Regions from separate parts of the Homo sapiens genome. Here all the other regions are reported to be linked to region 1. The links are microRNA targets in miRTarBase. Many come from high-throughput screens and were not tested one by one. Region 1 holds a microRNA gene; each other region holds the end of a gene's coding sequence.
Evidence for each region. The annotated mature microRNA hsa-miR-148b-3p reads UCAGUGCAUCACAGAACUUUGU and lies in region 1 at 1,865-1,886, shown strand. An mRNA with a match to its seed (bases 2 to 7 or 8) in the 3' UTR can be bound and repressed. Matches are read on the target gene's strand: a 7mer-m8 pairs with bases 2 to 8, a 7mer-A1 pairs with bases 2 to 7 and ends in A, and an 8mer does both.

Region 2: the mRNA of PSG2 is a reported target of hsa-miR-148b-3p. The part of its 3' UTR that is shown has no 7-base or 8-base seed match.
Region 3: miRTarBase lists CCL28 as a target of hsa-miR-148b-3p. Seed matches in the 3' UTR shown: 7mer-A1 at 2,650-2,656.
Region 4: miRTarBase lists CDH20 as a target of hsa-miR-148b-3p. Seed matches in the 3' UTR shown: 7mer-m8 at 1,443-1,449.
Region 5: miRTarBase lists NME5 as a target of hsa-miR-148b-3p. The part of its 3' UTR that is shown has no 7-base or 8-base seed match.
Region 6: the mRNA of IGFBPL1 is a reported target of hsa-miR-148b-3p. The part of its 3' UTR that is shown has no 7-base or 8-base seed match.
Region 7: the mRNA of GLI3 is a reported target of hsa-miR-148b-3p. Seed matches in the 3' UTR shown: 7mer-m8 at 2,155-2,161.

What each region holds. Positions count from the first base shown.
Region 1 is chr12:54,335,414-54,338,496 of GRCh38, forward strand. MIR148B (microRNA 148b) reads left to right here and starts at 1,803; the gene lies at 1,803-1,901. The region is part of intron 1 of COPZ1 (coat protein complex I subunit zeta 1); the gene reads left to right.
Region 2 is chr19:43,064,128-43,067,210 of GRCh38, reverse strand. PSG2 (pregnancy specific beta-1-glycoprotein 2) reads left to right here. Exons shown (of 6, transcript NM_031246.4): 5 at 611-694; 6 at 2,610-3,002. The coding sequence ends at 654. Among named protein-coding and RNA genes, the nearest start is that of PSG2, 17 kb to the left of the region's middle.
Region 3 is chr5:43,379,182-43,382,264 of GRCh38, reverse strand. CCL28 (C-C motif chemokine ligand 28) reads left to right here. Exons shown (of 3, transcript NM_148672.3): 3 at 213-3,072. The coding sequence ends at 405. Among named protein-coding and RNA genes, the nearest start is that of CCL28, 32 kb to the left of the region's middle.
Region 4 is chr18:61,554,025-61,557,107 of GRCh38, forward strand. CDH20 (cadherin 20) reads left to right here. Exons shown (of 12, transcript NM_031891.4): 12 at 166-1,755. The coding sequence ends at 671. Among named protein-coding and RNA genes, the nearest start is that of LINC01544, 190 kb to the right of the region's middle. RefSeq lists an enhancer at 62-569.
Region 5 is chr5:138,113,104-138,116,186 of GRCh38, reverse strand. NME5 (NME/NM23 family member 5) reads left to right here. Exons shown (of 6, transcript NM_003551.3): 6 at 423-1,012. The coding sequence ends at 506. It overlaps LOC124901208 (small nucleolar RNA U13), which reads left to right and starts at 883; the gene lies at 883-985.
Region 6 is chr9:38,408,880-38,411,962 of GRCh38, reverse strand. It overlaps IGFBPL1 (insulin like growth factor binding protein like 1), which reads left to right. Exons shown (of 5, transcript NM_001007563.3): 4 at 414-572; 5 at 2,746-3,083. The coding sequence ends at 563. Among named protein-coding and RNA genes, the nearest start is that of IGFBPL1, 14 kb to the left of the region's middle.
Region 7 is chr7:41,961,614-41,964,696 of GRCh38, forward strand. GLI3 (GLI family zinc finger 3) reads right to left here. Exons shown (of 15, transcript NM_000168.6): 15 at 1-3,083. The coding sequence ends at 2,717. Among named protein-coding and RNA genes, the nearest start is that of INHBA, 260 kb to the left of the region's middle.

The DNA of each region.
Region 1 (3,083 bases):
TTTTTTTTTTTTTGATCTGAAGTCTTGCTCTGTCGCCCAGGCTGGAGTGCAGTGGTGCGATCTCAGCTCACCGCAACCTCTGCCTCCCAGGTATAAGCGATTCTCCTGCCTCAGCCTCCTGAGTAGCTGGGATTACAGGCGTCTGCTACCATGCCTGGCTAAGTTTTGTAATTTTGGTAGAGACAGGGTTTCACCATGTTGGCCAGGCTGGAAGGATTTATTTTTAAGTAGACAATGAAGAACTTTTTAGTGATCTCAGTCAGCTTCTTTTTTTTTTTGAGGCGGTCTCACTCTTTTGTGTAGGCTGGAGTGCAGTAGCGCAATTGTAGCTCACTACAGCCTTGAACTCCCAAGCTCAAGCGATCCTCCTGCCTCAGCTTCCTGAGTAGCTGAGACTACAGGTGCATGCCACCATGCCTGGCTAATTTTTGTTTTTTTTAAGTTCTTGCAGAGACAGGGTCTCACTGTGTTGCCCAGGTTGGTCTTGAACTCCTGGCTCTAGTGATCTCCTGCCTCAGCTTCCAAAAGTGCTAGGATTACAGGCATGAGCCACTGCGCCTGGCCTCCATATTCTTATTTGTGCTCTTTCAGCTCTGTAGATGGCATCCTGTAATTCCCTCCATAGAGGCTTCTTGGTTTTTTCCCCTAAATGAATCAAATAATTCATTATAGTTTCCAAGTATCCTCTCTACCTTCCCCAAACATATTCTCCCAGTCTTCTGGTGGCTTACTAAGATCTTACCCCAAAGAGTTCTCTTACTATATACATTGTGAACAGACTTAATTCACTTATTTTTCAGGGCCCATCTCTACTAGTTTGTCCTACAAGACACACAAATAGAGAGCTTTTGCCGGGTGCGGTGGCTCACGCCTGTAATCCCAGCACTTTGGGAGGCCGAGGCGGGCGGATCACGAGGTCAGGAGATTGAGACCATCCTGGCTACAGTGAAACCCCATCCCTACTAAAAATACAAAAAATTAGCCGGGCATGGTGGCAGGTGCGTGTAGTCCCAGCTACTCGGGAGGCTGAAGCAGGAGAGCTTGAACCAGGAGGCGGAGCTTGCAGTGAGCTGAGATCGTGCCACTGCACTCCAGCCTGGGCGACAGAGCGAGACTCCGTCTCAAAAAAAAAAAAGCTCTTATCCAGAGCTGCCTTTGAAAAATATTTTTGCTTATGACTGTAATCCTGTGGAAGCTGCAGGTCACCGAGAAGGCCCACAGGGGGCAGCACTAGGAATGACTCTTTCCCTCTAGTCCTCTATGCGCTAGGGGAGAGAGTTCTTGGAGATGTTGATGCTTTTCACCAGGCTTTAGAAGCCCCTGATTGAGGCCGGGCACGGTGGCTCACGCCTGTAATCCCAGCACTTTGGGAGGCCGAGGCAGGCAGATCATGAGGTCAGGAGTTCGAGACCAGCCTGGCCAATTTGGTGAAACCCCGTCTCTACTAAAAATACAAAAATTAGCTGGGCATGGGGGTGTGTGCCTGTAGTCCCAGCTACCCGGGAGGCTGAGGCACAAGAATCACTTGAATCCGGGAGGTGGAGGTTGTAGTGAGCGGAGTTTGCTCCACTGCACTCCAGCCTGGGTGACAGAGAGAGACTGTCGCAAAAAAAAAAAAAAAAAAAAAAAAAGAAGCCCCTGAGATCAAAGATTCATTTGCAGCAGCCTAGTTGCTTGTTCTGTGGTGTTTCACCTGTCTTGAGGACAGCATTCTTGTTTTCTTGATAATAAAAACATAAATACATGAAAATCTGTCTAAGTCACCCAATCTCCCACAAAACAATCTGCCTATACATCATTTCCAAGCACGATTAGCATTTGAGGTGAAGTTCTGTTATACACTCAGGCTGTGGCTCTCTGAAAGTCAGTGCATCACAGAACTTTGTCTCGAAAGCTTTCTAGCAGCTACCCATTTTGGGAGTGGGAGGGAAGAATAGACCTTTTAAATTCTTTCAGTGTGGCCCTAAGCTGATAAGGTCTTTCTCAACAGTCAGCATTTAATGTGTTACAAGGTCAAGCCTAGTCCATTGTCCTGGAAGCCCATTTCTCAGTAGCTGGGAGTTATTTATAAACTTGCCCTTTGCAAAAACTTAAAATGAAATTACATTATCAGTAATGACTTCTGGGGCCTTTAAACTGGCTAGTTTTATGGCATAGCCCTCCCCACTCCTGAGAGGTAAAAGCCCCAGGCTGAAGTGGAACCAGCTGCAGTCAGGAGGTGGCAGGAGAAGTAAAGAAGCTGCTGGCTCCAGCTGTAGCAGAATGGAGAATTGAAGCGGCATTTAAGCGCCTGCCTAAATTCTCAGCTTTATTTAGTATGCTTCCTCCTTTGGAAGTTTGAAATGACCAGCCTTTTCTGTAATGCCTTCTTTCCCTTTTGAGAGCTCCAGTAAGCTCTATGTCAAATCTAGTCTTTATCCTTGTCCTCCTTAGCCTGTCTTTTATTCTTCCCAGGAAGATCCAATGTTTCTATTTTTGGGGTTTCTTTGATAATGTCTTCTAGGAAGCCAGTGAAAAGAACCAAGAGCAGAACCCAGGGATATGTTCTCTCTTTGCCGGTGTGGCTGTTGTAGGCACTCACACCCTGTTGGCCACAAAGGACATTGTCTGACTCTCCCAGTTGGCTGGGGGCCATTAGGGCTTTGCTTTTCTTTGGGTTCTAGGGATGCCAAACTCTATGGCTGCAAGAACCAGTTTCCTATGCCAGGTTAATGCCCAGCTTAAACTAATGGGCAGCTCTCTAAAGTTGCTGTGAATGTGGATAGAGGAACAGAGCCAAAGATTTCCAGGAAAAGGTTGTGGGAAAAAATGATTTCGTCTAAATTTTGTTCCTTTTGGACTTCTTTTCTTCCATTAAGAAAACTCATTCCCATTGTTGTCTCCCTTTTGGAATTGAGGACCCAAGTTGTTATAGAACTGAGCCTGCTTTACAGGAAGATCTTTCTGTGAGGAATTAGGAGTTAGGAGAGCTGCTTCTACTTGTGACCTTTTAAGACTAGACTCTAGAGGACTTCCCTCCACTAGGCAACAAAGTTCTTTAGTTTGAGAGAGGAGTTACTCATGCCTTGTTTATTCCAGAGTGT
Region 2 (3,083 bases), not on the chromosome of region 1:
CTATGAAAAACAAAGAGAAAGAAGTTTTAGGTACCAATGCAGTTCTAAGAGTTTTTGCAAGGCTGATGAGGAATCCTCCAACCAGTCACCCATTAGAGTTAAAGAGAGCCTCGGAGAACTAGGCTTGCTTTCACACCCTTGCTGGGAGCCTGTAGGAAAGAAGCTTTCTGTGCACAAGAGGTGGTGAATTTGAAATGCACTGACCTGGGCCTTCTGCCAATCAGGTCCCTGCCATGGAGACCTGACAGAGTCTCATTCATGACTGCCACAACAGAAACACCGAGAAAAAGATGCAACCATGAAAAGGTGAAAATGTGGCAAGTTCTAATGACATAGAAAATAGCAATCAGCCTTTCTCACATCTGAAAGCCTTCCAAAATATCTGAGTGCAGTAGAGAATTGACAGAGGACTGATCACCAACCGAGACACATGGTGAGAGGGAAAAAAAACTGCAAGAATATAATCATCTCCCATCAATATTCCAAGAGAAATAATGTGGTCCTTGAAGAAACAATTATAGAGTACCTCATGTTACATGCTTGTTCCTGATGCTCCCCCATGTAAAATAACATCACCTTCATTCCTTCTTTACTTTTCTTTCCATGACAGCTTCTACAAGAATAGGACTTCTTCCTCTCCTTAATCCAACATAGCAGCTGTGATGTCATTTCTGTATTTCAGGAAGACTGGCAGGTATGATGGCCTTTTCTCTTATCCTGGTTCCTGCAGAGCTGACTGCCATGCTTGGGAGAGGGAAAAGACTTATTTGCCTGTATCTGGGACTGCATCTCCTCCTTCCTCCACTAAACTCCTGCTTCTCAGCACTAATTCCTGCAGTTCCCTTTCTCCCTGGCCTTTATGCTCCCTGTACCCCACTGTCTTTTAGACATAATTATCTCCAGCCTCTGCTCATTTGTTTCTCAGATTCAAATGAGAAACACAATTTCACATGGTGAAACCCTCTTCATTATTTTTAACATCTCTCAATAGTGTAATTCTCTCCATTCCCATAAAGCTCAACCACTTCTCAAAGTATTGCTTGACTTCTTGTCTCCAGACTTTGAAATCTTCCTTGCATATGATTGCCTCATTACCTTTCTAAAATCTGGTTAATTGATTTAATCAAGAATCTGCAGGGGTCTACTCTAGCCTATTTGATAAGTTCACATTTCTTCTATTTACTAAGGCTTCTCACTTCCTTTACCTCTACTTCCTAGTATAAATCCTCCATCCTAATTAGAACTGTCTTCCTACACATCCCTGCCCCTTCACCCATATAGACATAAAATTCTTAGTTCCAATGCTATGTCTAAAAACAGAGTGAAATCCCTTCAACCATCTGCACTGCAGACTTAACCACACCCTTCATCACAAGCAACATGTGACCTCGTGGAGAACAAAGACTTTAGGATTAACATGTGAACCTGAGACTCAGAACACAACCTATGTGTGGTTGAGATCTTTTCCTGATGATCAGTTCATGTGTTCAAAAAACATACAGAAATGAAGAAGGCAAGGTCCCTACCCCAGGAGACATAAAGCCTAAGACAGGAAATGAGACCTGAAAATAATCATGATACCAAAATAGAAAAAATTGAATGCCACAAGAAATCAGAGAAATCTGATGGGAAATAGAGCTACACATTGGAATCACTGGAAAACATTTCTAAAAGTGGATGCTCAAGCCCCACCCATTAGTTCCAGTTCAAAGGTCTGGAGAGGGACCCAGGCACTGGTAATTTTTAAGTCTTCCCTGACACTACTAACACGTAACAAGGATGGAGAACTCCTGTTGCAATAGGTAGAACTTAAAACTAAATCAATGATTTTCAGCTAAAAGTACTGGAATTACCTAAGGACCTTTTTCAACATACATAAGACTATACATTTTTGGCCCTATTTATGAATGGGCTACACCAAGAACTCAGTAATCCTCTTGAGAAACAGAAGCTGAACGGAAAAGCCACCTTATTTTATATATTAAATTTATAGAAAGCATTTTCAAATAAGGGATAAGTGATGCTAAACCTTCTCTAAATAATATTTATGGGAATGTTAATAATATGAGTATTCTAGGCTGAGCGCGATGGCTCACGCCTGCAATCCCAGGAGTTTGGGAGGCCGAGGTGGGTAGATCACGAGGTCAGGAGATCGAGACCATCCTGGTTAACACGGTGAAACCCCATCTCTACTAAAAATGCAAAAACAAAATTAGCCGGGTGTGGTGGCAGGCACCTGTAGTCCCAGCTACTCAGGAGGCTGAGGCAGGAGAATGGCATGAACCGCGGAGGCGGAGCTTGCAGTGAACTCAGATGGCACCACTGCACTCCAGTCTGGGTGACAGAGTGAGACTCCATCTGAAAAAAAAATTTTTTTAATGAGTATTCTAAAAATTATATGAAATTTCTGAAAATCAAATATGTTATCATAGTGTCATATGCCACAGAAGTAACTAGATTTCTATGTGAGCTGTGTCTTTACCATAATAAATTCTCATTAGATTTTTAACCATAGTCAGTTTAAATCTCTGTCATTCCCAGACAGTTGCTTTGATTCTTCCTCAAACTACTTACAATCACCTACAGTCCAAAATTGCTTTTTCTTCAAGGAGATTTATGGAAAGGTCTCTTACAAGGACTCTTGAATACAAGCTCCTGATAACTTCAAGATCATACCACTGGACTAAGAACTTTCAAAATTTTAATGAACAGGCTGATACCTTCATGAAATTCAAGACAAAGAAGAAAAATACTCAATGTTATTGGACTAAATAATCAAAAGGATAATGATTTCATAATTTTCTATTTGAAAATGTGCTGATTCTTGGAATGTTTCATTCTCCAGATTTATGAACATTTTTTCTTGAGCAATTGGTAAAGTATACTTTTGTAAACAAAAATTGAAACATTTCCTTTTGCTCTCTATCTGAGTGCCCCAGAATTGGGAATCTATTCATGAGTATTCATATGTTTATGGTAATAAAGCTATTTGCACAAGTTCAGTAAGAATCTGCTCTCTTTATAACAGGACACATTTGAAAACATTGATTATATTATCAAGGCTTTGACTGGGATGTTATATT
Region 3 (3,083 bases), not on the chromosome of region 1:
ACCCACAGGCAGCAGTGTTTGTAAAGTCAAAATTGAACCTTGTGGTGCTCAGCTTTAGAATTCACTTCATTTCTACACTTAATTCAGAAATTTAGTCTGAATTTAGTCTCTAGGAATACAGTGTCCCAAAGTGGGAGCTGCATGTAAGTCACTAAGTGATTATTTATATATGTTTTATATCAGTGACTTTCTTTTGCTTCCTTTTCTAACAGCCTTCATGTCAAGCGCAGAAGAATCTGTGTCAGCCCGCACAACCATACTGTTAAGCAGTGGATGAAAGTGCAAGCTGCCAAGAAAAATGGTAAAGGAAATGTTTGCCACAGGAAGAAACACCATGGCAAGAGGAACAGTAACAGGGCACATCAGGGGAAACACGAAACATACGGCCATAAAACTCCTTATTAGAGAGTCTACAGATAAATCTACAGAGACAATTCCTCAAGTGGACTTGGCCATGATTGGTTGTAAGTTTATCATCTGAATTCTCCTTATTGTAGACAACAGAACAAAACAAAATATTGGTTTTTAAAAAATGAACAATTGTGCGGTATGCAAATGTAGCCAATAATATACTCAACTGGAAAATGAAATGAAAAGATAATACTGGCTGGGTATGGTGGTTCACACCTTTTATCCCAGCACTTCGGGAGGCTGAGGCAGGAGGATCACTTGAGACCAGGAGTTTGAGACCAGCCTGGGCAACATAGCAAGACCTCATTTCTACAAACAAAAAAAAAATTGGCCCGGCATGGTAGTACTTGCCTATAATCCCAGCCACATGGGAGGCTGAGGTGGGAGGATCACTTGAGTCTGGGAGAGTTTGAGGTTGCAGTGAGCAGCCTGGGTGACAGAATGAGACCCTGTCTCTAAAAATAATAATAATAATGATAGTGTATATCTTCATATAATATTTTAAGAGGAGCATATAGATATAACTTCTCCCAACTTTTTAATTATAGTTTTCCAAACTTACAGAGAAGTTAAAAGAATGGTACAATGAACATCTATATATCTTTCACCACAATATTAATCATTGTTAATATTGTGTCACATTTGCTTTCTCTCTCCTCTCTTTGTATGTGTTTCTATATAAAATATTATAACTTTTAAAATATATCTTGTTTTGCTAAACCATTTGAAAATAAGTTGCAAAAATCATGACACTTCACCCCTAGTTTCTTTTTGGTGTTATAACTTGACATACCCTAAAATAAAGACATTTTTCTACATAATCACCTTATCAGTTTTATACCTAAAAAATTAATAATTTCATCTAATATATTCCATATTCAAATTTTCCCAACTATTTAGAGAGCATTTTATGTAGTTTTTTTTTCACTCCAGTAATCAATCAAGGTTGACATACATATTGCAAATAATTGTTATTTTTCTTTAATATCTTTCAATCTAAGAAAGTTCCTCTGTCTTTTTTTTTTAATTTTTAAAATTATTTTGTTGAGGGAGGGTCTTGCTGTGTCTTCCAGGCTGGAGTGCAGTGGCACAATTTTGATTTTGGCTCACTGAAGCCTCAACTTCTAGGGCTCAAGCAATCCTCCCACCTCAGCCTCCCGAGTATCTGGGATCAAGGTGCATACCCACCACACCTGGCTAATTTTGTTTATTTTTTGTAGAGACAGGGTCTCACTATGTTGCCCAGGTTGATCTCAAACTCCTGGGCTCAAGCGATCCTCCCACCTTAGCCTCCCAAAGTACTGGGATTATAGGTGTGAGCCACAGTGCCTGGCCTAATTATTTTCTTGTGATCAAATTCAGGTTTAATGTTTTTGGTTAAGAATTTCCTACGTGAATTCGTGTACTTATTTTGTCATTTAGAGTTCATAAATATTAGGGTTTATTTTCTAAATAGAATAGTTTAAACTAAATATAACTTCAAAACGTCTAGTTTGAGTAGCTACCGTTGTTTGGATTGAAATTTTCTGATACTGAAAAGAACAAAAAGCCTGCCTTTCTGCCCAGAACCTTTTGCCTCCCCCAGTCAGTTCTTGGAGCAGCACTAGTTAGGGGCCCAGAGTTCGGCCTTCTGTGTGGTGATTTTACGCTCTGCCTAAACAAGGAGCCTACATCTTTTAGCTCCTATTCCACCCTTCTCACACGTTTTTGTTGTTGTTTGGTTGTTTTTTTTTGAGACAGAGTCTCACTCTGTTGCCCAGGCTGGAGTGCAGTGGCACAATCTCGGCTCATTGCAACCTCCGCCTCCCGCGTTCAAGTGATTCTCTTGCCTCAGCCTCCCAAGTAACTGATATTACAGGCGCCCAGCCACCACACCCCGCTGATTTTTGTATTTTTAGTAGAGACGGGGTTTTCCCACGTTGGCCGGGCTGGTCTCAAACTCTTGACCTCAAGTGAACCACCCGCCTGTGCCTCCCAAAGTGCTGGAATTACCAGCGTGAGCCACCATGCCGGGCTCACACGTTTGAGTTGATACCATTGTGCCATTCCTCTTTTGGCCTCTTTTTTGTCCATAGAGGCTTCAAGATAGATAGGTAAGAGCCCAGTAGTGTTCATAAGAAGCCAATAGAGAGCAGGAGCCACTTTATCAGGTGGCAGGTGTCCTGGGCCTCCCTGCTGGCTAGTCCCAAGCGGTGGTGTTGCCAGGATGTCTTGGAGGTGATAATGGGACACACAGAGGCACTGAGTCTCCATAGGTTAAAATGCCACCAAAACTGGCCTTTGCCTAATATCCCTCATTGACTATTTAGCATTTAATTTATTTATTTTCCTGACATTTCTGCAAGCTTTGTATTTATATTTCCACTTTATAGATGAGGAAATTTGAGGCTCTTAGAGGTAAAATGACTTGCCCAGGTCACACAGGAAGTGGCAGAGACAAGCTTTTTAAATAAGAAAAAATTAATAAAATATAATATGAGAGTAACTTAAAATATTAATAAACCACAATTTTAAATTAATTAACCGTGATAACCAACATTAATAAAAGTTAAGATACCAAAACACTGGTGTCTAATTCTTTCAACTAACAACTTGAATTATTTTCCATTTTAAATTAATTAACCGTGATAACCAACATTAATAAAAGTTAAGATACCAAAACACTGGTGTCT
Region 4 (3,083 bases), not on the chromosome of region 1:
GGACTTAAATTAGAACTCCCCGAGGTTTCAGATATCCAAAAGCTATCTCTGAGCCCTCCACTCGGTAGCCCTTCCCCTATCCGTGGTGAATCAAGACTACTTCTAGTCACCGCACACACAGCCACATCTCCTCGGTAAACACACTCTCCTTTTTGTTCCTGGCAGTGCTGGTGTTGCTCATTTTGTCCATGAGGCGGCACCGGAAACAACCATACATCATCGACGACGAGGAAAACATCCACGAGAACATCGTCCGCTACGACGACGAGGGCGGCGGCGAGGAGGACACCGAGGCCTTCGACATCGCGGCCATGTGGAACCCCCGGGAGGCGCAGGCGGGGGCCGCCCCCAAGACGCGGCAGGACATGCTGCCCGAGATCGAGAGCCTCTCCCGCTACGTGCCTCAGACGTGCGCAGTGAACAGCACTGTCCACAGCTACGTGCTGGCCAAGCTCTACGAGGCCGACATGGACCTGTGGGCACCGCCCTTCGACTCCCTCCAGACGTATATGTTCGAGGGGGACGGCTCTGTGGCGGGGTCGCTGAGCTCCCTGCAGTCGGCCACGTCGGACTCGGAACAGAGCTTCGACTTCCTGACGGACTGGGGGCCCCGCTTCCGGAAGCTGGCCGAGCTCTACGGGGCGTCGGAGGGACCCGCGCCGCTGTGGTGACGGAAGCCAGGAGGCAGGCGCGCGTCCAAATCCAGACGTTCTCCGCGGGTGCTTCGCGGACAAGGTGCAGCCAACCACACGAGCAATACTGTGCTGGAGAGTGAGAATGGGGGTGAGCAGGCGAACAGAGCTCTCTCTGGATCAGCTTTACTTGGGTAGATTAAGTTAAATAAGCAAAAGGAAACCCAGAAGGAAGAGGGCAGAATCTTTAATTACCTTTTTTTCTTTTCTTTTTGATTTTTCTGACACTGTGTGCGAAGGCTTGGAGTCCAAGGTGTTCTGACAAGGGTGGCTTTTCTCTGCCATTCGCTAAGGCCTTTGTCACTTTTCCACCACAGAAAGGCTCTGGCCTTGGATACAGAGATGCCAATTGAAAGCAGAAAGTTCTACTCTCGTATCTGTTTTTTATCTTATCTTATTCTCCATTTAAGAGTTTTGCTGGCTCAAACCACAGAAACCAACCCACAAGAAAGAACAAAAAACTTGTTACTCAGTGAAATTAACCTACTTGTTCTGGGATGGATGGAATTTCCCGTAACCCTTTTGAGACAAGGTTAAGACTGAATCAGCCTTGCATGGGGGTGGATGGGTGGGAGGGTGGGTGAAGGAAGAGACATTGACTTTATGCTCAAGTTTAGTGGCTGAACCAAGAGATGTTGGCATTACAGCTCATCCAACGCCATCAAGTTAGAGTGCTCGTGTCTCCTCTCAGCTATTTAACTGTGCCCCTGCAAAATTGTTCAGAATGAAACCAGAAAAATCTGCCTCTTTTGCACTGTAGATGTCTCTTCCATGTGCCAAATGTGGAGATTAGATGCTACAAATGAAAGCCAAATAAAAAAGAAGTATCTGACAAAAGCATGGGTTAGAGGGCTTTCCTAATCTGTGTGAGGTCAATCCAAGGGATGTTTACATACTGTAGATAACCTACTTGAACAAAAATCAGTATTATAGAGAATAAATGGATGTAAGAAAATTACATGTACAAGTTTTGTATATTTGTTAATAATTTTGGTAATAAATATGATGTACTGCATCTCAGTACCTTAGCACTTCTTTTAATAAAAGTTAAATAGAAGGAAAAGTCTATTGTGAATTTGTTTAATTGCTGAACAGGTAGAAGATGACTTTGTAATCCTGATCTAGCCTCAGGCTCCCGGGGTTGGGGCTAATTTGTAAGGCAAAAGCAATGGAAAAGAAGTGTGAGGCTGCATTCTGTTTCAGTAGCTAACCATATGAACATTATGGTTCAAACTGTTAAGCTTTTAATGAACACCCTCCATTTCTTCATCCCTGAAAAGAGCAAAGGGTGGTTTGGTAATATCAACTATACAATGGTGAATTTAGCCCATATTTTTCATTTTGCAAAAGGTTATTACACATAGCCCCCAATGAGGCAGGCTACTGTGCTACTTACATCTCTATTTCATTGGCAAATTGAGCTCACAGATGGTTGAAACCATATTTTATTCATCTTTCCTTTTGCTACAATAGCTAGCATACTCTTCTGCATACAGTAGGTGCTTAACACTTCTTGGCTACATGATGGGAGGGATCTCTATTTGACATTCTATTACTAAAAAATATTTTACACAACTATCCTCACAACTGAGGACAAATTGTGAACAAAATCATTCCCTGAGAGCCTTGATTATAGCAACAGTTCTCAAATTTTAATGTATCAGAATCACGTGAAGAAATTGTTAAACTACCTCACCCCTAGAATTTATGATTCAGTCGATTTGGGGCAGTTTGTATTTCTAACATGTTCCCAGGAGATGCTGATGCTGCTGGTCCAGGAACCACATTTTGAAAACCTCTGATATGTAGTTACTCACTCTCTAACACATGAAGATTAAACTATGTCCCATCTGTACTGGGTCCCATCTTCCCGCAGAGTGGTGTTGTGAATTGTTTTCTCAGTAAAACATGAACAGTTTACAGAAATGTAAGGAAAGCTGATGAGGGTCTGGGAGGCAGTAGGATGTGCTTTTTTGCATATTACACATTACATGGTACCATTACATGGTACATTAACAGCCACCAAATTCTCTTCAGCCTTCAGCATACTAACCCTTTCTTCCCATGAAAGGCAGGCAGCTCTCACACATCCTCTTCAAGGATAGAGTGCAATGTAAAAATAAATACATTTAACAAAGCAAAAGAAAAAGCATGGACTTGAGTCCAAACTAGGCTTTACAATATACCAATTATATGGATGTAGGCAAATCAACCTCTATAACATTCTTCCTTCCTACCACAGCCCTGAGGATAATTTTGTGAGTATTTCACTTTGTACTGCTTATGTTACAACTGAGAACAGCTGTTATCCTAACCACAGGGCGTTATCATGCCCCACATCCTGCAAATGTGGTCCCCATGATATTGGGCATGAAGTAATTAAACAAAATC
Region 5 (3,083 bases), not on the chromosome of region 1:
GCTTCTTGGGTTAAATTTATCCCTTGGCATTTTATTTGTCTTTATGCTACTGTAAATGAAAGTGATTTAAAATTTTTTTTTGGACTGTCATTGCTGATGTATAGAAATACAGTTGATTTTTGTGTATTGTAACCTACATCTTCGCTGAATTTATTAGCTGTAGTGGCTTCCTTGTAAATTCCTTAGGGTTTTCCACATGTAGGTTTATGCCATCTGTGAAAAGAGATAGTTTTACTTCTTTCTTGCCAGTTTGGATCTATTCTTGACAATCTTGCATAATGTAAATCCAAATGTTTCCATTTTTAATGGTCATTTTCTTAAAGTGATTTTGAAAACTGTTTAAGTTTCCAATTGATATAGTATATATTGAAAGGAAATATGTAACTGTTTCTTAACTTAGGTTGTTTTTTTTTTTCCCATAGATTTGGCTAGCTGATTGGCTGCTGAAAAATAATCCTAACAAACCCAAACTTTGTCACCATCCAATTGTAGAAGAACCTTATTAAAAAAAAAATCCTCGAAAGAACAAATCATGAACTATCTTATTATAAAAGGCTGTACTTCTACTGTTTGAAAAAATTATTTCTAGGGTTTAAGTAACTACAAGTAAAATAAATTTATTTCTTAAAAATAAGTGTTAAAGGAATAACTATTCTATGAAGCAGATAACATTAAGGTAAAATATAGGCTTAGAGTATGATTTTAACAATGATGTAACACTAGGTAATGGAAAACTCATGTAAGATGTTGCTAGATGTTTTTGTTTTTCTTAAGTTTGAGAAGTAAGACATAAAGTTTAGTTATACATTTTCCCAAGCACATATCCTATATCTAAATACATAATTAATGCACAGTTGAGACAGTCTAGTTTAAAAGGCTTAGGTCCTTTTGTAGTCCATAAGCATGGTGATTTGGTTTCATGCTCATGTGTCAGATATGCTTCCCTCAAACCTTGTTACAGCATCATCACATTACCTGTTTGATGTAAAAAATAAAAAATAGAAAGGTGTAAGTATATAAGTAATTTTTTGGTACAATGAAAATGGCCAGAACCAGGGGATGATCTTAAACTAATCACTTGGATAACTATTAGGCTGGTGCAAAAGCAATTATGGTTTTTGTCATTAAAAAACAATGGCAAAAACCACAATCACGGCCGGTCTTGGTGGCTCACGCCTCTAATCCCAGCACTTTGGGAGGCCGAGGCGGGTGGATCACGAGGTCAGGAGATCGAGACCATCCTGGCTAACACGGTGAAACCCCGTCTCTACTAAATATACAAACAATTAGCCGGGCGTAGTGGCGGCGCCTGTATTCCCAGCTACTCGGGAGGCTGAGGCAGGAGAATGGCGTGAACCCAGGGGGCGGAGCTTGCAGTGAGCCGAGATCGCACCACTGCCCTCCAGCCTGGGTGACAGAGCGAGACTCTGTCTCAAAAAAAAAAAAAAAAAAAAAGAGAAAAGAAAGTATAATGTAAGAAAATGTGAAAACAGAAAGATTGTTAGCTGAAAAAAAGTATGTTACAAAGCAATATGCACAGTGTACGCCCATTTGGTTTTGGTTTGGTTTTGGTTTTTTTTGTTTGTTTTAATAAGATAGGGTCCCGCTATGTTGCCCAGGCTGGTCTCAAACTCCTGGGCTCAAGCAATCCTCCTGCTTCGCCCTCCCAAAGTGTTAGGTTTATAGGCATGAGCCATTGTGCCCAGCCATGTGTTCTCATTTAGATTAAAAAATGAATAAATAAATGTGTATAGAATAACATGTAGAAGGATACCCACTCAAGTGTTTTTATCTATAATCTCTGGATGGTAGAAATATTTTATTTTTCTTCTTTTGCTTAGCTGTATTTTAAATTTTTCTACAGCATTTATGTAACTACTTTTGTGATTAAAAGAAACATTAAGATTACGAAAAATAAGCCGGGCGCGGTGGCTCAAGCCTGTAATCCCAGCACTTTGGAAGGCCAAGGCGGGCGGATCACGAGGTCAGGAGATCGAGACCATCCTGGCTAACACGGTGAAACCCGGTCTCTACTAAAAATACAAAAAAAATTAGCTGGGCGCGGTGGCAGAGGCGCCTGTAGTCCCAGCTATTCGGGAGGCTGAGGCAGGAGAATGGCGTGAACCCGGGAGGCAGAGCTTGCAGTGAGCCGAGATCGCGCCACTGCACTCTAGCCAGGGCGACAGAGCGAGACTACGTCTCAAAAAAAAAAAAAAAAAAGATTACGAAAAATAAATGTTGTAACAAATGTCAGCTTTAAAGGGCTGGCAACACTTCCTTATTAATAGACTGTGTTTAAGCTGTCAGTGGCTAAGATGTTTTGCAAGTTCTCACTGTTGGTATTTTTCTGAAGTTTTGGACATATTCCTTCTGAGACTGTGTGCCCACTGTATTTCAAAACACCTTTAGCATCAGTGTTGGGAGAACAAACCAAAATCTTAAAAATAAAGATAAATAATAAATTGTTATATTTTTTAGCAATGACCAAGGACATATAGGAAAAAGCAAATCATTTTTACAGTAGGATTCCAGTGTGACAGCTTTAGGAGGTCATTTCCACATTCAAAGCCTCTGTCATGGAGGAAAGAAAAAAAAGAAAGAAAAAAAAAGGCAGCACTGTGTATAGCAAAAAATTCCAACTGGGTGTGGTGGCTCACGCCTATACTCCCAGCACTTTGGGAGGCCAAAGCAGGAGGATCACTTGAGGCCAGGAGTTCAAGACCAGCCTGGGCAACATAGCAAAACCACGTCTCCACAAAAAGTATAAAAATTAGCTAGGTGTAGTGGCCTGCACTTCTGTTCCCAGCCACTTTGGAAGCTGAGGCGGGAGGATTGCTTGAGCCCAGGAGGTCAAGGCTGCGGTAAGCCATAATCACACCAGTGCTCTCCAGCCTGTCTAAAAATATCAAACAAACAAACAAAAAAGATGGCCGGGCTCGGTGGCTCACACCTGTAATCCCAGCACTTTGGGAGGCCAAGGCGGGTGGATCACGAGGTCAGGAGTTTGAGACGAGCCTGGGCAGCATGGTGAAACCCCGTCTCTACTAAAAATACAAAAAATTAGCTGGGCGTGGTGGCGGGTA
Region 6 (3,083 bases), not on the chromosome of region 1:
GGGAAAAGAGGTTATCTCTGGTGGTATTTTGTAGAGGCTGCCCCTATAGGGAATACTTTCTGGATCATTCTTTGGTCAGTAGATTTTTGTTCTTCTTTTAACTTGAGGTGTTTTCCAAATAACCTATACCTTGCACCTTTAATACAAAAGACCAGGTAGCTCACAGTAAAAGGCAGGTGTGCGGAGGAATCATTCAGATGAGAGCCACAATAGGGAGCGTGCCTTTCAAGAGGGTCCCTGGGAAGGAAATTTACCTGCGTGCTCCTTGGCAGCCAATGCAAGGAGAGAAATAGAGCAAGTTTTACCTTATTCTGAAAAGGAGGAAGTGTGCAGACTTATCATTAAGAACTAACTAAGGAAGTCATTTTGCTGTTCCTTATATAACTGTATAAACTTGCCTGTTGTATTTCTAGATCAACCCCCTGCGAAAGGAGGATGAGGGTGTGTACCAGTGCCATGCAGCCAACATGGTGGGAGAGGCTGAGTCCCACAGCACAGTGACGGTTCTAGATCTGAGTAAATACAGGAGCTTCCACTTCCCAGCTCCCGATGACCGCATGTGATGGAGAAATGTACATGTTCTAAGTCATTTTCAGTATTTTACACCCATGTTATGAGATATTTGAGGTGGCTTATAAGACCTGTAAAAAAAAGAAGAAAAATACGTAAATGGAGGAAACCAGGGAAAGAGCAAAAGAAGAGTAGGGACATACTTAGATGAGCAGTAGAATCCCTGGTATATTCTGCACACATCTCCCTCTGAGCTTCTTAGCATGCAAAGACAAGAGCTGTGAACATGATGTGTGTCCATGAGATGAAAAGACCAGTTGTGTTTTGGGGCTGGAGGGAATATTTCCTCTGTATTCTTCTAGAAAGAGCACTGAGAGAGGTAGCAGACAGTGTCATTGTGACAGCGTCCATGTGAAAATGTTCCCACAAAGAAGATGCCTGAGCTTCCTTTGTGTGTTCCTGGAGCTCTTCCTTGTTCAGGACACCTGAGCTTCCTTCCTGGGGCTCAGGCCTTGCCTTCCTGTCCTCAGCACTGTGTGCTGCTTTGCAACACATCTCCTTGTGGGTAGGGGCAGAGAGAATCTCTGCATCCCCTCTGGTCAAGGCCTCCTAGTCTGTAGTCACACAGGTGACAGCTGGGGTTGCATCTGTTCCTTGCCTACAGGTGAACTGGGAATTCGGGAAAGGGATCACTTTATAAGCCAGCTTTTGCTCATAAAAATCCCAAAATCTTGCTGGTTCACAGCCACAGACGTTGATCACTTGCTCATGTTCCATGTTATAGCTGTGAGCTGGCTGTGGCCCTGCCCCATGTGTCCCCTCATTCAGGACCCAGCTGGAGGAACAGCTCCAGTGTGGAACATGTCCGTTCTGTGGCCAGGCTGCACACACCATTGCATTTAAAGTTTCTGCTCGGATGTGATGTGTGCCCCGCCCATTTACAGACCAATCATTTTTTTTTTTTTTTTTTGAGACAGAGTCTCACTCTGTCACCCAGGCTGGAGTGCAGTGGTGCGATCTCGGCTCACTGCAAGCTCTGCCTCCTGGGTTCACGCCACTCTCCTGCCTCAGCCTCCCGAGTAGCTGGGACTACAGGCACCCGCCACCACACCTGGCTAATTTTTTTGTATTTTTAGTAGAGACGGGGTTTCACCGTGTTAGCCAGGATGGTCTTGATCTCCCGACTTCATGATCCGCCCGCCTTGGCATCCCAAAGTACTGGGATTACAGGCGTGAGCCACCGTGCCTGGCCTGCACGATCCTCTTACAGGAATGGGGGAGCAGTGGTGAACAGGCACCATTACCAAGGCTGATCAACAGGTGCTTAATAGAACAGGAAAAATTAGAAACAAGTCTGATAGGGTTTCTCAAAAGCAGGGGGATTTTGCCATGGTTTTAGTTATATTATTCTTTCAGCCACTACTGTTGCACACCTTCTGTGTGCAAGGCCTTACTTCTGGTCTGTAGGGGATCACAGAAAAACAAAAAGTGGACATAATTATAATACAAGGAGTGCGATGTAAGGGAATGGGAGGAGATATTAAGGCATGAAAAGCAGCTTAGAACTGGGGAAAATGAAGGAAGAATCATCGAGGAGGTGGCATGAGGATTGAAGGATGGGTGTACGTGAGTAGTTAGAGGCCCTAGAAATGGGGAGAAAAATATGAAAATGTAAAACTGTGAAATAGGAATTCAACAAAGAGTTAGGAGATTGGGTCTTAAAATTGTCTTCCTGATGATATGTGACTTGTTTTATATAGATATGTTTCCAGTTTTAAATATATATATCTATAATTTTCAAATACACGTATATTTTGAGGCAGAAATGATTCTGGGTTGTGAATACATCAAAAGGATACCATGAAAAATTGTGGAATTTTAAGAGCATCACTGCTGCCTAGGTCTTGAGTTCCTTCTGTGACACACAGTATTGCCAGCTCTGGCTTACATACCTCCAGGGATACAGAGCTCACTACCACTGAGAGCCATCTGTGGATTTTCCAATGGTTGAAAAGATCTTATTAAGCTGGAGTCTGCTGCTTTGAAACGTCCACCTTTTGGTCTTAAAAGTACTTCTTGGGACTCCACAGGGCCCTTCACTCTCCACTGGCACCATTTCCTGCTGGGGAGAGATTCGAAGTGAAGGATCATTTCCCCCACCTTCCATGTAACACATAGTTGATTGTAACGGAGCAGGCTTACGTTCTCTAATTCTTTCTCTCCTTTTCTTCCTAGGGTCTTAGAAACATTGATCATGGGATGATGGAAAAGTCAAATAACGGATCTTTGTGCTTCATGAAGAGTTGGAAAACCTGTGTGTGTAGATGACCCCTTTTGTGTGTTTTTAAAAATTAGATGCAAACTAGATCTGTATGCAGATGTAGTTTTTAGCAGGGCAAACAGTGAGAAACGGATTTGCATGTGGCTTTTTTATACTTTTGAAATGAATTGTTCCATGAGAAGTCTTTTTGTAATTATTCTCTTCCAGGGAGATCACAGAACGGCATGTTTGCAATTTCGAAAGGGCTCGTGTCAGCTGTGACTCTTTACCTCATTTGTCTATGACCTATTAG
Region 7 (3,083 bases), not on the chromosome of region 1:
GCATGTTTTAGAAAAGGCAGGATGGTGACACTAGTGAGGCGGTCCTCTCGCTCTAAAATGCATAGGTTAGAGAAATGGAGAGAGGCTTGGAGGCTGGGGGTGAGTCTCAAGATATGAGATGCCTAGCCTACAGAGATCCCAAAAGGATGTCCCAAAAAGATGCTTCTAAGTGACCTCAAAAGACCTTCCTTCCACTGGACTGCCACAACAGATCACTGAAATTCTGGAGGAGTATACTTTCTTCTTCCTCCCTCCTCTCCTCTGTCCTTCTGAAATTTCCATATTGAGAGAAGCCAAACATTGAGCTGAAACTTGCATCTCCTGCAAATCTAAAAGCAGTAGAAAGGAAAGCAAATATAAAAAAAAAAAGAAATAAAAGAAGAATAGGGGAAACCCAGAAAATAACCTGAAACCATAGGAAAGAGCAGAAGCACAAGACAACAACAGTGGTGGGCCGGATCACTGTGCATCCCTCCAGGAAGGACAAAGCTGATACAGGAAATAATGGTAACTGAGAAATGGAGGTTGCATCCGAGAATACTACTGGAAGAGCCCTCTGATGGAGGAGGTCAGCATGGTCCCTTCCACCCAAGCTCCTTTCTTAGGAGGAGTGGAGAACACTCAGGCCCCATGCTTTGAAAACAAGAGTTGGAAAGGGATTGAACCAAACCATTAGAGCACACAAGATAAGACTGGAGATTTGGAGATTTGTGGAAAAGTGAGACTGGATCTCTGATTCTGTGACAACATTATGCCTTGTTTCAGAAACACAGAGAAAGTCTTGCTTTTTCAACTGAAAAGTGGTAGAGCCTCTACTTTCCTATGCTCAGATCAGTAGTTCTCTTTTGTTATGGGGCTGTTCCAAAGGAGACACATCCGTTAATTTCAAAGAAGACTTACATGGGGGAGAACAGCAGGCATGGAAGGGGAATTGCAGTGTCCCTCTGCTTGTCTCAGGAACATCTAGTTGAAAGCAAACCTAATAGTCTTAGCCAAAGTCCCCAGTGGCAAATCAACCTCCATGCGGAGATTCTTGGTCCAAATGAAAGAACATAAACATGAGAAAAGTGGGCTGGTCTTAACACTCTTTCTATTATCTAACACTTTATTTTACTTGATTTTGTCTTTCTACTGTAATTTAAATGGCAAGATTAAAGGGGAAAAGCCACATAATTGAATTATCAATCACTTGCAGTAAATCCAATTCCAGGGGTCAATGGGACAGAATACAGCAGGTAGCCTGAGGTGTTAATATTTTAACAGTTTATATAATTTTTTAAAGCAATATGCTGGAAAATCCATGTACTCTTTGTGCACACACAGTATGACTTTTATGTGTATCAAATGCACGTGGGGAGTAGCTGCACTTCAAAAATCTTTAAATGTTTTAATCCAAAACAAAAGTACAGATCCAGTCCACATTAAGGACTAACTGCATGTAACATTTAACTTCGTGAATGGATGCAGCATTCAATAGACAGGGTGTGAAAAAAGGCATCCACACAGCTACTAAACATCTTCCCTAGTGCTCTCAAATACTAAAAATGGCTGAAGCAATTTATTCCCACTATGTGGGCTTTCTCTTTTACAACTAAGTTTTATAAATCCCTCAAAATAAGGTATTTAGAATGGAAATCCTCCCTCACTATAGTGGAATTAATAAATGTTACTGATACAGCCGCTTGTGGGGTTGTTTAAATACCTATATACTTAGAGCTATATATAATCAATTCTCAGTTAAAATGGGAAAGAGATGGAACTAATCAACAAACACAGCAACTCATAAATATTCCCCCAACTAATTCTACCCAATTGCTTCAATCTACCATCTATCTAACTTCTTACCAGAACAGATAAAAGTAGCAATGTGGCTGAGTGTCACCAACTGTCCGTCCCTTCTCTCTAACTGCAGTGCGAAACAGCACTGAATGTTCATGAAGGTAGTGGGAGGAGAGGCAAATGTGATAACTGAGAATCGACCATACAGACATAGCCTCCCCCAAAGCACACTTACAGACATGAAGAGCTGAAAACCAAAACTGTGAGCGCCCATTTCATTTATAAGAGCCCCACGTTCCCATTTCTGTTTAACTGTGGAATGCCCTGAACTGAATTGGAGATGGGGGGAACATCAATATTCTGTCATCTATGCTACAGTGCACCCACAAAAGTTTCTTAAACTAGCTATCCATATTCTGATTCTTGTGCCCAATGTGGGAATTAAAATAAAAAACAGAAACCAAAACACAAAACAAAACACTGAGCACATGTAAAGGAGAATTTTAAAAGCTGGAAGTGTAACCCCTTGGTCACAAGCACACCAACTCCTATTTCCTTTGAGCAACAGCAAAACATGTCAAATCCTTTAATTTGACTGCTCTTCTAAAAGAAAGAAGAATATGCACATCACAAATTTACATCGGTTTACTAAAAAGGGGGCGGGGCTTACAGTTTTTTTTTTTTTTTTTAAAAAGAGGGTGGTTTGAGTGTAACAATACTGATTCAAAACTGAAATGGAAGACAGTTTCTCCCTAGAATACTTTAGGGTTTTTCAGAGTCCTTTTCCATAAAAGGAATATAATTGAAACACATCTCAGTTAGGTGAGATGAGATTGCTAAAATACATACAGAACTAAAAAAACAGCCAAAACAAAGTCAGTTTAATCTCTTCAACTCCTATTGATTTCCGTTGGTTGCAGTCTTTTTTTCCTAAAGCCTATTGCATAACTGCAAGGAATTTGCTTTCTTCCGCTAGGGAGGTCAGCAAAGAACTCATGTCCCCGATAGCCATGTTGGTGGTGCTCATGGACAGCGCTGGGAATGGGAGGGACGCCCGAGGCGTGGTGAGGCGGGAGGAGCTATGGGAAAGGTTCTGAATGATACTTGGGCTCAGGGCCCCCGACATCAGGCTGGAGTGGTCCCCATCGTCTATGATGGCATCGAAGTCAATCTGTACCCCTTCCAGGTCATGGCTGTCGAGGCTGTCCACTGTGCTTGTCACCTGATTAGCACCTGGGGAAAGTAACTCAGAGTTTTTGGCGCTGGTCCCCTGTAGCAGGCAGCTGGCGTCTGAAATAGAGAAT